Homo sapiens: one gene and its partner. The protein of the gene in region 1 interacts with the protein of each later gene in a pairwise test. Each region holds a gene or a part of one and is shown on either strand. Other genes may lie near its edges.

Region 1 (3,742 bases):
GATGATCCAGTCATGGTGATGGTAGGCCAGCTGCTCCACGCCAATTCCCACCATCCTGCCCGCTATCGCGCCCACAGCCATGCTGGGGATGAAGAGGCCCGACGGGATCTTGAGGAGACACAGAGAAAAGCAACATGAGGGAAAAAGACCAAGTCCCCGCTTCACGACCCCCAAGAAACACATTCCCCCTCGACGGGCTTGCATTTAGCTTCAGTCTTCAGAGGAGGTGCAACTCTGCAAAATAGGTCAGCTGGGGAAAGGTGGGACAAATAATTTGACCTGCCTAGTCAGTCATATCTACTGCAACTTAGAGAGGACGCAATTTTATACTTTGATTCCCTCTCCTTCAAAAGCTGGCTGGGTTTGCCTGCTGTGGATTAAAGAATGATAAGCCCCACTGCAAATAACATTCAAAGTGAGCATCTGTCAGTTGAGACACCACTTTCTCTCGCCCCTTGCCATGTCATTCAGAATGGCTTTTAAAATTAAATGTCAAGCCACAGCATGAAAATGGAAAAGAAGGGCCTGCGACTGCTCCCAGGTAAAATAAAGAAGCTAAGTCCATCATTGCAGCCACCCTGGATCTTCCAGAAAGCACTTCAATGGCTCCCTGCCCTCTCTAGTAGGTGGTAGCTGAATACCTGTCAGAGAGAGACGAGGGAGGCAATTCCCTCTTCCTAATGAAGTACATTTTCTAATAAGTATTCTGAATATTTTCAAGCCAGGATAGGGGCAGCAAAGAAATAGAATGTAAACTAAGAGATCTTGGTACCAGCGTGTTCTCTACCCTGCTGGATGAAGATACATTTTAGTTTATCTAATGACCACACATGTACTATAGAACAAGCCTGACTCCCTGTGTTCGCTGAAATGACACGTGACCGCTGACCATGGGCAGCAGCTGCAATGATGCCAGCCAGCCCCAGGTGGTTACCCATCTGAGGATGGAAGCAGAACTTTAACCTAATTCAAGTGAAGTTTGGATCCTTGGGTGTGATTTCTAGAGTCAGAATACTCCTTAGGAAATCATTCCTTTCTGAGCTTCCCCTTATTCTACATCATTTATATCCCTGTAACATCAAAGGAGACTTTTCTCAGCAAGCATCATAAAATGTTACCAGCATCTTCCTGAGACATGAAAACAAATCCCTTTGCTAGGAGATGACAGATCAGAGACAGCCAGCTGTTTAATAAGGCCTACTCATCCTTGTTCTTAAGGCCCAAATTCAGGTTTGTATTTGACCACTATGACACACTCAAGTAAACAACTTCTTAGAATTTTTTTCTTTTTTTTTTTTTTTTTTTTTTTGAGACGGAATCTCGCTCTGTCGCCCAGGCCCGTGTGCAGTGGCGTGATCTCAGCTCACTGCAGCCTCTGCCTCCTGCGTTCAAGTGATTCTTATGCCTCAGCCTCCCGAGTAGCTGGGACCACAGGCGTGTGTCACCACGCCCAGCTAATTTTTGTATTTTTAGAAGAAATGGGGTTTCACTATATTAGCCAGGCTGGTCTTGAACTCCTGACCTCAAGTGATCCACCCACCTTGGCCTCCCAAAGTGCTTGGATTACAGGCATGAGCCACCATGCCCGACCATTAAATTTAAAAAAAAAAAAAAAAAAGACAATTCAGGCTGGGTGTGATGGCTCACGCCTGTAATTCTAACGCTTTGGGAGGCCAAGGCAGGCGGATCACTTGAGCCCAGGAGTTCCAGACCAGCCTGGTCAACATGGCAAGACCCCATCTCTACAAAAAATACAAAAATCAGCTGGGCATGGTGGCACGTGTCTGTAGTCCCAGTGGGCTGAGGCAGGAGGATCACTTGAGCCCAGAAGGTCGAGGCTGCAGTGACCCATGATTGTGCCACTGCACTCCAGCCTGGACAACAGAGTGAGACCCTGTCTCCAAAAAAAAAAAAAAAAAAAAAAGACAATTCAGGCAGGGCACAATGGCGCATGTGTGTAATCCTAGCACTTTGGGAGGCCAAAGCAGGAGGATCACTGGAGCTCAGGGGTTTAAGACCAGCCTGGGAAACATAGGGAGCTTGGTCTCTATTTTATATTTTTAATAAAAATAAATAAAATTAAAAGACAATTCATAGAAATGCCACACAGAAAGCAATAGTAATGGAACACAAAAGGGGGCTCTGGGAGGTGGATAATGTTCTGCTTCTGGTCCTGGGTGCTGGTTACACAGGTGTGTGTGTGTGTTTTATGAAACTCCATCAAGCTGTACACTTCTCTATATGAACGATATACTCTAATAAAAGTTTCTTTAAGTAAGTAATGATAGCATTATTCATAATAGCCAAAAGGTGGAAACAACACAAATGTCCATCAAAGGATGAGTGGATAAACAAAATGTGGGATCTCCATAGAATGGAATACTATTCAGCCATAAAAATGAAGTAGTGACACATGCTACAATGTGAATGAACCTTGAAAACATTGCACTAAACGAAAAAAGCCAGTCACCAAAGGCCACATATTATATGATATCATTTATATGAAGTGTCCAAAATAGGCGAATCTAGAGACAGATTAGTGGTTGCCGGGGCTGCAGGAGGGAAAAATGGGGAATGACTGTTAATGGAGATGGGATTTCCGTTTGGGGGATGAAAATGTTCTAAAGCTAAATACAGGTGTTAATTGCACAATATTGTGAATGTATGTAATGCCACTGAACTGTATACTTTAAAATGATCATTTATGTTTTATGGGTTTTACCTCATTTCAAAAAAAAAAAAAAAGCTATAATAACAAAATCCCAGGTTCCATAAAAGAAAGTTCTTTAGGAGGGGCTTTTAAAGTATTTTAACATAATGATTTTAACAAATGATTTTAACACAATGAAAGAGGAAACCAGCTGTCTCTTCTCTGGCTTTAGGAACAAGAGTAATGAAGGCATGTGCTGTTGGGTGTGGTGTGGTGGCTCATGCCTATGATCCCAGCACTTTGGGAGGCTGAGGCAGGAGGATCACTGGAGCCTGGGAGTTTGGGACCAGCCAGGGCAACACAGCAAGAGCCTCATCTGTACAAAAAATTTTTTTAAATCACCAAGTGTGGTGGTTCACGCCTATGATCCCAGCTACTTGGGAGGCTGAGATGGGAGGATCATTTGAGCCCAGGAGGTTGAGGCTGCAGTGAGCTGTGATCATGCCACTGTATTCCAGCCTGGGAACAAGACGAAAGGAAGGGAAGGGGGAAAGGGGAAAGGGGGAAGAGGAAAGGGAAAAGGGAAAAGGGAAGGGAAGGGGAGGGAAGAGAAGGGAAGGAAGGGAAGGAAGGGAGGGAGGGAGGGAGGGAGGGAGGAGGAAAAGAAAGCATGTGCTGTCATCCACAGCTCTGTTCTTCAAAGAGGATGTGTGCAAAGAGCCCCTGTCATGCCCAGCCCTACCCAGACGGGGGACACACTCACTCTGTGCTCCCGTCATACCAGCGTGGTGCTCATCACAATGTCAGAACTCCAGGTCTGCATCTCTTTCTCCCAGAGCTGTGTGCTCTGCAAGGGCAGCTTTCTGTTTGGGTTCTGTATCCCTCAGACTTAGCACGATGCCTAAGATACAGCTGATACTCAATGCATGTTTAATGAGCCAAACTGAGCCAAACCTGGGCTTTTTCCACCACCTGGCATCACCTGGCCAGCGGCAGGAAACCTGTGGTCACCACCACCTGTTCTGGGAATGTGTGAAGTGGGTTTGATGCCTAGCTCTGTCTCCCATAAGCTGTGGGTCTGATCAAGCCACT
Region 2 (3,756 bases), on another chromosome or scaffold:
GTTAAATAGGTTTAAGTCTAGTGCAGCGTTTAAGGCCTGATTTCAAACGAAAGTATTCTTCAATGTTCGAAGACGATACTGTGACAGAATACATCTACCACTGTAATGTGCAGACTCCAAGGTGAGGGTTAGGATTCTCAATTCACTCTGTGTGTGTGTGTGTGTGTGTGTGTGTGTGTGTGTTTGTGTGTGTTTTAGACTATTTTTTTTAAAACTATTTATTTATTTATTTATTCATTCAATACGGGGTTTCGCTCTTGTCACCCAGGCTGGAGGGCAATGGTGCGATCTTGGCTCACCACAACCTCCGCGTCCTGGGTTCAAGCAATTCTCCTGCTTCAGCCTCCTGAGTAGCTGGGATTACAGGCATGTGCCACCACGCCCGGCTAATTATTTTGTATTTTTAGTAGAGACGGGGTTTCTCCATGTTGGTCAGGCTGGTCTTGAACTTCTGACCCCAGGTCATCTGCCCGCCTCTGCCTCCCAAAATGTTGGGATTACAGGTGTGAGCCACCGTGCCCGGCCTTTGTTTAAAATATATCAGTGGTCCAGAAGATTTGTATCAGTAGTTAAATGACTGAATTTAAAAGGACAAGTGTCTAATACATTTTATTTTACTCATCTATTCTTAGAGTACCCACTGTATAAAACATTGTGCTGAGTTCTGATGGGGGATTAAGAAGTAACATGTTCACTCTTCCCTCAAAGTTCTCATGAACATGTTGAGAAAGTCTTGGTCTTGGGCATCTCCAAGAGATGGTTTGAGTTGAGAGTTGAAGAATTTCACATAAAGAAGTATTTCCCAAACTGAGTATGAATGTTTCAAAAAAAGAAAAAAGGGTGCTGGATTAAACAAAAGTAAATGATTGTCTATACTATGAATCCTCTTAGAACCTTTACTATACCGAAGGGTATTGAATCTCCCAAGTGAATGGGAGATGCTATGTGTATTTTTCAAGTTCATTTGATGATTGTACTCCTGAACAACTCTAAAGATCTGTAGGTCAGCATTAGAAATGCAGCTGCAGAGGGTGAGGAGTAAGTGAGGGATTCTGCATGTATTTTGACAGTGATTAGAAGGAGAGAGAGAGAATGGGGCATAGTAGCAGAGGGAGCAAGAGGGCCAAATGTATGTTTTAAAAATATGACTTATGGATGTTGGGTGAAAAGTACCAGTGGAGAAAACAGAGCCTGAAGATAGTGGGGGGCTAGGAGGAGGCCGAATGATAAGGCCCTAGAGTTTCTAGGAAGAGCATCAAGAATAGAGTGCAAAGATGAGAGCTGCAGTTCTCATGCTATGTTGTGTACTGGAATTATTGGGGGTGCTTGTTGAAATGTGACTCCTGAGGTTTGTTTCTAAGACTAATATTAGCATTTCTGGGCTGCATCTCTAACAAATACTCTGGTGATTCTGTATAGGTGAACTATGGAGCACACTTTAAGACAGAGAAGTGGTATCTCATCCTTTCTAAGACTGAGGTTTGGATGAAAGGCTAAGAGGCGAGATGCAGAGACAGCCTCCCTCTCTTTTATTTCCTCCCTCACTTTTGGCAGAAAATATGTACACCTACTTTATTAAAAAGATTGAGGCCATGGTAGCTATTTATAGGTAGCTGTAGCCTCAGTCTTTTTAATAAAGTAGGTTAGAGGTTCTCTGCCAAGAGTGAGGGAGGCTAGAGGTTCAAGGTCTTCAAGAGATTGAGGTTTTGTGAATTGCTAGGCAGTCAGGTTTGGTGGATTAGGTCTACACACTTCCAACAGTTTTTTTTAGGGGTCTTCCCCGGGAACATCATTCATTTTCCTGCATGGCGTAAGTTTTACTCTTCACGTACTCTTATTTCATGATTACATGTGTTCGTGTAGTCCTAGTTTGTTACTTTGATTGTAGTGAGACTTGAATTCTTCATAAAAGGCAAGTTAGAATGATGTCTGGTTTTGTAAGAATAGCAGAAGGGACCAGGCGTGGTACTCACGCCTGTAATCCCAGCACTTTGGGAGGCCGAGGCGGGCAGATCACAAGGTCAGGAGTTTGAGACCAGCCTGACCAACATGGTGAAACCCCGTCTCTACTGAAAATACAAAAATTAGCTGGGCATGGTGGTGCGTGCCTGTAATCCCAGCTACTCAGGAGGCTGAGGCAGGAGAATTGCTTGAACCCGGGAGGCAGAGGCTGCAGTGAGCTGAGACTGTGCGTGCAGCTGCACTCCAGCCTAGGCAACAGAGCTAGACTCCATCTCAAAAAAAACAAAAAAAACAAAAAAAAAAAATGAATAGCAGAAGTGACAGCAAGATAGACCTATCCTGAGAGCTTGCAAGAATATATTGTCTGAGTTTCTTCTTAACTTGGTAATGGTTTTAGCATTGCAGGTGAAACGCTGGTGCCATGAACCTGGGGATAAGCTACCTTCTACATCAGTTTAAATAAGGACAAAAAAACATATTTTTAACTATCTCCACAATAAATAATTTAATGATAGAAAATTAGGGTTGTACATTTTGGTTTACAAGAAAACTTTTTTAAAAATCAGCTGGAGTATACAACAGCCTTGCTTATCTAACAGTGATCTGTGAGATTTGTTCCTTACACTGTCTCATAAATTATTTTCTATTTAAGCTGAGGTTTTTCTTAGGTGCTGGAAAAGCTAAATATGAATGTGTTTTGATAGAAGTGACAGTGCAATGCATACTCATTCCCAAAAATCATACATCGTGATTTTCTCCTTGCCGTTAAAGTGGTGAGACAGCTTTCAAGAATATGACTATTCCTTATGGATGGGCAAAAAGGCCAATGCTCCAGCGAATTGGTAAAATGCACCCTGACATTCCAGTTTCAGTGATCTTTGGCGCCCGATCCTGCATAGATGGCAATTCTGGCACCAGCATCCAGTCCTTACGACCACATTCATATGTGAAGACAATAGTAAGTGTGTGGCTTGATTTGGGTTTTTAGGTATAGGTGAGGTCCGTTTTATTATCTCCCTTAAAAGAGGTTTTAGGTCATCCTCGTGTTGCAGGTCATCTGAGCCATACCTGCAGCCTCAGTCGGGGACGTGATACCACCTGTGATGGGTGCAGGGTTTGGCCTGCACACATCTTCATGTCCAAACCGTGAACTACCTTTCTGAATGACTTTTCCTGTCCCTAGAGCCACAGCATTAGGAGAGATGGACAGAGGGATTGGTCCAGTAGCACTTCAAGTAATTCCCACCTCACAAGGCAGCACACTCTCACTTTTTTCAGTTTCTCTGTTGGCACTTTTATTAGTGGTCAATTTAGTGTTTTTTGCATATTAAAATTTTATTGAGATTCAGTAGATTTTTCTATTCTCAGATCCTTTTAATGGATATACTTAATAGTTACTATAGATTATTGTTATTTTTTAATCACGTGTTTTATTTAAATACAGTGGCTCTCACTTTTATTACTAAGTGTCTTTGCTTATATATCATTCTGTTTTATTAAATGCTTTTACTCACTAACTGTCTGAATGCTTTTCCTTATCCAGGCTATTCTTGGGGCAGGACATTATGTATATGCAGATCAACCAGAAGAATTCAACCAGAAAGTAAAGGAGATCTGCGACACTGTGGACTGAACACACTGAAGCTCTGATGGGAAAACCTGGTGACTGATATAGTTGTTCAGCAATAATTCATAGTCTGTGATGAAGAGTAGTGAATACAACACACAACCAGGCAGCCTTCTTGACTATACTTTGCACATGTTTTCTTTAGGAATTCACTCACACATTTAAAC

The links.
Region 2: the proteins of CLCN4 (region 1) and ABHD5 interact in binary tests that used the Homo sapiens proteins (3 or more experiments, as listed by UniProt).

What each region holds. Positions count from the first base shown.
Region 1 is NC_000023.11:10,208,833-10,212,574, reverse strand, and holds part of CLCN4 (H(+)/Cl(-) exchange transporter 4), read right to left. Parts: intron 109-3,742; coding exon 1-108. UniProt on the Homo sapiens protein: Strongly outwardly rectifying, electrogenic H(+)/Cl(-)exchanger which mediates the exchange of chloride ions against protons.
Region 2 is NC_000003.12:43,714,938-43,718,693, forward strand, and holds part of ABHD5 (1-acylglycerol-3-phosphate O-acyltransferase ABHD5), read left to right. Parts: intron 1-9; coding exon 10-121; intron 122-2,733; coding exon 2,734-2,920; intron 2,921-3,505; coding exon 3,506-3,595; 3' UTR 3,596-3,756. UniProt on the Homo sapiens protein: Coenzyme A-dependent lysophosphatidic acid acyltransferase that catalyzes the transfer of an acyl group on a lysophosphatidic acid.